Linked DNA regions of Homo sapiens. The protein of the gene in region 1 purifies or fractionates together with the protein of each later gene. This does not show direct contact. Each region holds a gene or a part of one and is shown on either strand. Other genes may lie near its edges.

What was found.
Region 2: the proteins of FRAS1 (region 1) and CA10 purify together in Homo sapiens (co-immunoprecipitation; one large-scale study listed by IntAct). This does not show direct contact.

What each region holds. Positions count from the first base shown.
Region 1 is NC_000004.12:78,476,556-78,480,365, forward strand, and holds part of FRAS1 (extracellular matrix organizing protein FRAS1 isoform 1 precursor), read left to right. Parts: intron 1-1,259; coding exon 1,260-1,506; intron 1,507-2,818; coding exon 2,819-3,163; intron 3,164-3,810. UniProt on the Homo sapiens protein: Involved in extracellular matrix organization. Required for the regulation of epidermal-basement membrane adhesion responsible for proper organogenesis during embryonic development. Involved in brain organization and function.
Region 2 is NC_000017.11:52,155,637-52,160,244, reverse strand, and holds the start of CA10 (carbonic anhydrase-related protein 10 precursor), read left to right. Parts: upstream 1-1,530; 5' UTR 1,531-2,458; coding exon 2,459-2,519; intron 2,520-4,608. UniProt on the Homo sapiens protein: Does not have a catalytic activity.

The DNA.
Region 1 (3,810 bases):
TTCAGCTGGACTAAGCTAATGTCTCTAATGTCAAATGTAAGTGAGGAATTAGGAAAGAACAGATAAGCTAATGTCTTTCAGCTAAATGATAAGACGGAGGATATTCTTGTGTTTTTCAGGGAAAGACAGAAGACTGTCAGTGTATTCTAGATCTTACATAAAGATCTGTTGAGTGTTTCATTTCACTGGGAGTGTTTTAAAATATGAAGCTTAATAAAAGTGTTATTAGTTGATTAGATATATACTAATAATTTTCTGTTTGAGTAAAATTTTTGCAGATTTGTGTGTCCCCAGACATTTATGTCTGTTTTTTGTACATATTTCAGTTATCTCCGTTTACACAAAGTATAGTCCAGGCTCATTTCCTGCAGTTTCAGTTTTGGGCAAGTCCATAGTCGTGGTTTCACTTGAAGATTTTTAATTTCTTTCTTTTTAAAAAAAAAAAAAAACAAAGTAAAACCAGAATAAGTCCCTATAAGTTCACAATTGTGTACATATAAAATAATTTCTCTGTTTTGTACTGGGCTAAATTGATTCACATTTTAATGGCAAAGGGTGTAGTCAAAATATCAAGTTAAAATTAGTCTACCTTGTTTATAATGTAATTTTCTATGAATTTAAATTCCATTATTCAGTACACTGGAATTCTATGTCAATTTTAATTGTGTAAGTAATATGGTGATACTAATGATAATATCTTATGTTTGTTTGGTACTTTAAAATACACTTAACACCTTCATATACAAGACCTCCTTTAGTCCTCCCAAGAAGCGTATGAGGTAGGAATATTATGACTTTTCTTTAGTTGATGAGGAATCTGATGTTTGTAAAGCTTCATAACCTAATACAGCTTGGAAGTAACAGAACCAGATCTGAGAACAGAACTTCATACTCCAAGGCCAGAGTTCTTCCAGAAAGGGAACTGAGTCATCAAATGATGACTGTTGCTGCCCCAAGTGAGATAATAAGACAGGCTATAAAGAGTTACTACATGTTTTTCTCCAGTCACCAATGGTAGGAGAGATTTTGCTCCTTCATGTCCTTATACAATAAAGCAGCCCTCCTGTACAGGTTAAGAATGGGAAGAGGTGGCTGGGTGTTCCAGGTGATGCAGCAGGGAACCAGGGCTGGGAGAACCAGCTATTTCAGTCAGTGCTCTGCCCACTGGACTTGGATGCTCTTTTCCTATGATGCCCTGGGGAAGCAGAGCAGGGGAAGCTGAGGCACAGCTTAACTTCTTGTTGGTTCCTTTGTGACAGGTCCAGTTTGATGAGCGAGAGGACACCAAGTCCTGCACCATTGTCATCAACGATGATGACGTGTTTGAAAATGTTGAGAGTTTCACTGTGGAGCTCAGCATGCCAGCTTATGCCCTGTTAGGGGAATTCACCCAGGCGAAGGTCATTATCAACGATACCGAGGATGAACCCACATTAGAGTTTGACAAGAAGATCTACTGGGTTAACGAGAGCGCTGGTTTTCTGTTTGCACCTATTGAAAGAAAAGGTCTGTTGGTTCCACAGGTGACAAAGAGCTATAATAATTGCTAACATTTATTGAGTTCCTATTATGTGCTAAGCACTCATCTCATGCATTATCTTAACTCACATGTGTACTTTCCACTTATTAACTCATTTGGTTCCCACAACAACCCTGATGATGATTCTATCCATAGTGACTACCATCAGAAAGCCTCTTTTCTTAGTTCAAGTTGTTAGAGCTCCCATTTACTCTTAAATTGGACTAGAAGACTGGTTATATTTAGCCTTCTAAATTATTCATGAATCAGTATTCTTAATCAATCACCCAATCCATAAAATATTTAGTAACCTTGGTCAAGGAGGGAAGTTACAGTTCATAAGGACTGGCTTTCCATCTTATTCTTGGAAGACAGAAATATGCTGAAAATTTCCCTATGTGACAGTCATATGTAGAGCTCAGATGAGAAATAAACTATGTGTAAGAAATAAAGGGCAATTCTTTTTTTGTTTTATTTTTGACTGATACATAGTAATTGTGCATGTTGATAAAAGGGCAATTCTTGAGGAGTTGGAAATAAAAATAAACATCATATGGAATTTTGATTGTGCAAGATTGAGACTTTAAAACACATGGAAATTGAACCCCCATTCAAAGGCACAACAAGACTGTAAATGATGATTTTGGGTTTCTTTCTTGAATCTGCTGACTGGGTATTAGTGTAACAAATACTGTAGATAGCAAAAACCCTTGGTAATGCCACTTGGAAAACAAGCAAGCCTCATTGATTGCTCTGGGCCACCAAGCCAGGCCCAGAACAGGCTGTCACCAAGGGAAGTGGCAGCCCTAATAAGTAAAGTCATTTGTATACAGTGGCAGATTTTATTTTGTTTTGTCTTTCTCTTTTTAAATAAGCCTGTTTCTTTCTGGGAATTAAAGTATAGAAGTTTATTCAGAAAGGCAGTGAACTGTGCTTATAGCACTACCTTCAGGACACAATTACTTTCCTACTTAAAGTACCAAATATGTGTCATATCTTTCCACCTGCTGTGGTCTTAGATGGTGGGCAATGAGTCTTGCAAATTAACAGAGCACAAAATTCACAGAATAGGAAATCCATTTTGAGTTGTTTGATGAAGTATCTGGGGTATATTAAATCCTCAAGTGGTTTATACCACAGGCTCAAAGAAACTGCAATTCAGGAAGGTTTTATGTCAGAGTTTGAACAGAAATAGTGATGGACTGTTTGGGAGGGACCAAGCTCATTAACTTACCAGAGGTTTTAAAATCTGAGAAGCACTCATTCAAATGCTTTGGTTTTTTGCCATTTGTATTTCAGGAGATGCAAGCAGCATTGTATCTGCAATTTGCTACACAGTCCCTAAGTCAGCTATGGGAAGTAGCCTCTATGCTCTAGAATCAGGCTCTGATTTTAAATCTAGAGGGATGTCTGCCGCGAGTCGTGTGATATTCGGGCCTGGTGTGACCATGTCCACCTGTGATGTCATGCTTATTGATGACAGCGAGTATGAAGAGGAAGAAGAGTTTGAGATTGCCTTGGCAGATGCCTCTGACAATGCCCGCATTGGAAGGGTGGCGACAGCCAAGGTGCTCATTAGTGGTCCCAACGATGCCTCGACTGTGTCCCTGGGCAACACGGCTTTCACTGTCAGTGAGGACGCAGGTAATGGAGAGTGTCTCTGAGTTTCCTTCACCTGTCTCCTGATTCCTTTCTTGAGCAGTTTTCTCCTTAGGTTTCAGAATATCCGGGAGACATTGAGAATGCCATTCCTCAGGGATACCACTGTTGGTCTAAGGCACTATATAATGCTTGGCCAAGACCAAGCATGGAATTTATTATAGAGAGTTCCATCCACTTTTCTTACTCTGATTTGTTTTAGTAAATTTTTGTGGGTACATAGTAAGTGTATATATTTATGGATTATATGATATATTTTGATACAGGCATGTAATATATAATAATCACATCAGGATAAATGGGGTGTTCATCACCTCACCTCAAGCATTTATCCTTTGTGTTATGTACAATCCAATTATACTCTTTTAGTTATTTTAAAATGTGCAATTAAATTATTTTGACTATAGTCACCCTGTTGTGCTAGGGAATACTAGGTCTTCTTTCTAAGTATTTTGTGTACCCATTAACCATGCCCACTTCCCCCCTCCACCACCATTTCCCACCCCCACTACTCTTCCCATCCTCTGGTAACCATCCTTCTACAACATGGATGGAAGTGGAGGTCCTTATGCTAAGTGAAATAAGCCAGGCACAGAAAGACAAACTTCACATGTTCTCACTTATTTGTGGGA
Region 2 (4,608 bases), on another chromosome or scaffold:
GGGAAGATTCACTAGATTGACTCTGTGCGGATGAACGGGCACCCTTTCCTTCCCCTCCTCCATCTCCACTTATCTACCCTTTGTGCAGTTCTTAGACCGAGGTTTATACTGAAATAGCTTCTAAACATCAAATATTAAAAGTGGATAAAAAATCCCCGCGGGGTATGTGTGTGTTTGTGTTTGTTATGTGTGTGTTCATCCGCGCTTGTGCAAAATCTCCTAACGTCACAGTTCCCAATCGGGACAAGCGCGCCGAGAAATCCTGGATCTTCCCAGGGATTCCCTCTACGCTCCCTCCTCTTCTTCAATAACCCCAAAGAGGTAGGTTTGAGCTTTCGCAAACCACCACTGCAGCGATGGAAGCAGACAAATCTGTTGAGATTTTGTCTTTCCCCTTTCGTTCCCAGCCCTCTTAGGCAAGCAGTTCTGAGCACAGGGTTTTCTTCAATTCCCCTGCATCCACACTGCAACCGGGTGCAAGTCTTTCCTAGGTTATAGACAGCCCGCCTCCCCACGAGACCTTCTGCGGACTGGCTGCCCCTGGCCTCGGCCTGGGTGGGTGGGTGGTGCTCGCGCCGCCCCTACTTTCCCCTGGGGCCCTGGAGAGCCGCGCGCTGGGTGTGTGTGTGTGTGCGCGCGCGGGTTTGGTGGGGAAATCTCCTTCAGTGGAAGCTGCTGAGTGTCGTTGGCGGAAAGTATCCTGGAGCCCAGCAAAAGCCTCCAAAGCACTAGAGCTTCCCTAAAGAAAAGCAGAATAAAAGAAAGACAAGAAGGGAAGCCCGTTCCTCTAAAGCCCGGGTTTCCAATAGTCCCGGATCCTCCTGGAGTTGGGCGAAGGCGCAGTTGGCAGCAGCCGCTGCTGGCACCCGGACTTGGAAAGGCGGTGTTCCCCCTTTTCGGGAGGAGGGAGGCAGGGACTTGCAGGCAAGAGTTGCACCTGGTCTAGGAACCTGCAGAGAAAAGAACTCTGGGGTAAGTAGTGTTCTGGCACTGGCACGGAAAGGGGTAAAGGGTGGGGGGCATGAGAGGGACGAAATGGAGAGGGCAGGGAATGAATTATGCAAAAAAATCTCCAATATTTCGCAGCGGAGGGAGAGCACAGCACAGCACTCCCAGGATGAGTCCTGCCTGGGTCTCCCGCGCCGAACCCGCAGCACGAAGTTCTTTTTAAGAAGAGAAACTCGAAAATCCTGGAGGGTAACAGAGGCAGCCAGGGCGGGGCGGAGTGCGGAGGCGGCTGCCAGGGACTGGGGCCGAGGCGGCGGCCAAGGTGGCCTGAAGCTGTGACACCCAGCCTCCTCCTCCTCCTCCTCATGGCCGCGCTCAGCCTCACCTCCCCGCCCGGGCCTCCTGCCTCCGCCCCCGGGTGCCGGGCTGCGGAGCTGACGCTGGGACGCCCGGCGGCGGCGAGGACGCTCACCTGGCCAAGCCTCCTTCTCCTCCTCCCCCTCCCGCCCCCACCTGTCCTCCTCCTCTCTGAGTTGGGAAGCGTAGGGATCCGTAGGCGAGGAAATAACGACCCCTGCAGTTGTATTGCGGAAAATCTCGACAGCGGCGCTAGTTGCGGGCGATGGAAGCCAGGCAACTGGGGGTTCTGGGGAGTTCAGGAAAATAGCAGAGGAGCAGGAAGGGCGCGCGCGACCTGGAGAGTCTGTGTGCCCCCACCGCGCCCCAGTCCCCGGGGCCCAGCCCTTCCCCTCGGCGCCCTGGACGCACTGCCGGAACCCGGCTGAGAGGCTGCAGGCTGCGCGCGGACCTGGGGAGCAGGGAGGGTCGGCGGAGGCTGCCGGCGGCTGGCGGTTTCGGGCAATAATCCCTGCCTCTCTTTCTCTGTGTGTCTGCTGTGTCTGCTCCTTCCCCGCCCCCCGGAAGCAGGAGAAGAACTGCCCCGGAGCGCAGCAGCCACCCTCCGACCATGCCCCGGTGAGGGGGGCGGACTTCGAGGGCAACTTGCCGCGGACTGCCTGGGCTTAGCCAGCGAGCTACGCGCTCCCGGGAGCCCGGAATTGCACGGCGCAGCCCGGCGGGGGGCTATCGTCTATGTCTTCTTGGGGCGCCAGACGAATCGGGGTCTCGTTTTTGCTGGAAGAGCCCAGTGTTGGTGGCTTCAGGTGGCTGCTGCCGCCGCCGCCGCCGCCGCCGCTGCTAGTGCGGTTTCCGCCGCTGGTGCGAAGAGAAGAGACACGCGAGCGGGGAGACCTCCAAGGCAGCGAGGCATCGGACATGTGTCAGCACATCTGGGGCGCACATCCGTCGAGCCCGAGGGGAGATTTGCCGGAACAATTCAAACTGCGATATTGATCTTGGGGGTGACTGTCCCTGGCCGGCTGTCGGGTGGGAGTGCGAGTGTGCACTCGCTCGGAAGTGTGTGCGAGTGTGTATGTGTGTGTGCCGTGTCGGGCTCCCCCCTTCCCCCCGTTTTCCCGTCGAGTGATGCACTTGGAATGAGAATCAGAGGATGGAAATAGTCTGGGAGGTGCTTTTTCTTCTTCAAGCCAATTTCATCGTCTGCATATCAGGTACGGGACGCGCCGAAGTCACTGGCTGATTTGGATTATGTTGTGATGTCTGGGGTGTATGGGGTTTTATTGTATATAGCCGCGGGGCAGAGAGAGGGGTGGCGAGACCCTTTGAGTTCTGCGGGTTTGCCGCCTTCAGAATCAAAAATCTTCTCAGCCCAAGGGTGTGTGAATGTGTGTGTTTTGCGGGGGGGGGTGGTTAGGATCTGTGTGCAGTCCTAGAAGGGTGAAGGAAAAAGTGGTGGGGGATGAGAAAGAAGAGGCAGATGGGTGTTGATTTTCAACTGCTTTCCTGGCTGAGAACTCTGGCGCCGAAATCCGAGCCTTGGCAACAACCACCCCCATCCCCTGGCTTTCAAAGTTCCCAGACTCGGTGGTTCCTGGCTGGCAAAATGGACGCGGGGCCCTGCCCGGGTATCTAACCACTTTCAAGAGACTGCGGGAGGATGCGGGACTGGAGAGTACCAGCAGGGATCAGAGATATGTCCTCCATGCCTTACCCAAACACATCAGGACTGATTGTGATGCTTTGAAACCTGCTGACACACCCTCCTCTACCCCCCCAATTTTCTTGTTAAAGCACTACAGTGTCACAAATACCACTTTCTTTACATCACGGTGTTTTTTAATTCCCAGTAGCAAGGATGTGCTGGCTCAGACCTCTCAGTCTACTTGGGCCTGTCTGTGCTTTTAAGAGCAAACGGGATTTCAGGGTGTTGAGGTGAAAGAGGTTGGGCTTGTGGACACCTGTGCCTGAGTGTGTTAGGACGAGTTCTGGTTTTTGAGCACTGTCTTTGTTGATGCAGGGAATTGGGGTTGGGAGGAAGCTGGGAGGGAAAGGGGAAAGCCCCTGGACCAGCAGTATTCCCCAGTTCAGTGGCTCCTCCCATTGAAGGCACCCACCCCATTTCCCTTCACACCTGCCACTTAAGCACCCAAGGAAAAGCCCATTTGTAGTGCTCCCTTCTGCCTGCATTCTTCTGCAGAAGTGGGGACTCGGCCAACTTCCCATGAAGTCATCAGAAGAGGAGAGCAGGATATTGCCCCTTTGAGCAGCCACATTTAAGCAGCACTGGGGTGGAGAGACATGTTTCCTGCCTCTTCCTTCAGCCCTGTCAATCCCCTCCCTTTAAGCCAGACCTGATTCTGGATAGGAGAAAACAACCCTAGTTCTGCCCTCACCCTGGACTCTGTTCCAAATCCCAGTCTGGCTTCCAATTTTCTCCTCATAGGGAAGGAATGGGACTCTTATCCGAAATCATTCTGTGTGGGGCTTGGCTACCCTATTAAGAAATTTGTCTCTGTGATACATCAGTGAGATGTGTTGTGTACCTGGCAGACAAGAAAATGTGCCCTGGGGTCACCCCAACTCCTCTAGTGGGACTTCTATTATTCCATTCTGCATCTAGGAGTGAAAATTCTCAAGTGACTTGTAAAGGTTTATATCAGTCATATGTCCAGATATGAAGTGGGTGGCATCTCACAAGGCCATATTTTACATCTTTCTCTTCTACATGTCTATTTCAAACTCTCTCTCTTGTTCCAGAATATTTGACTAGTTATAAAATAGCCTTTCCTTACTTCTCCCCAGTGTCATTAATAATTTTCAAATCAGACAAGCCATCTGAGTACCTTTAAGATTTATAAAGGGTTAACATTGATTAAGGCTCTGGATTTCCTCCAGCATCCTCTCTGTCCCCAGCCCTTACCCTGAATTTCGCCAGGCAATCACCGAGGGGAACAGGCTGAGAAAGGGTCTGATCTTAGCCTCCAAAAAAAGCATTAGTGGGATACCTGTCACAGCTATATTTGATTTGGTGTATCAGCAACTAAATTATTCAAATGGAAGCATTAGGAGGGGGATTTCCAACTCAGGAGGAGTGCTATGGAGTACATGGCCTTTCATATGTATTTACTAAATAATCATTATTGCTATGTAATGAGAGGATAAAAGTGTAAGCAAAATTGCTAGCTATTAGCTAAACACAGAAAACTAGGTTAGCGTTCCAAATGCCTAGTTAGGATCTGCATTAATTTGCACTTTATGAAGACATTTAGGCAGGGATGCAACATCATATACTCTTTATTT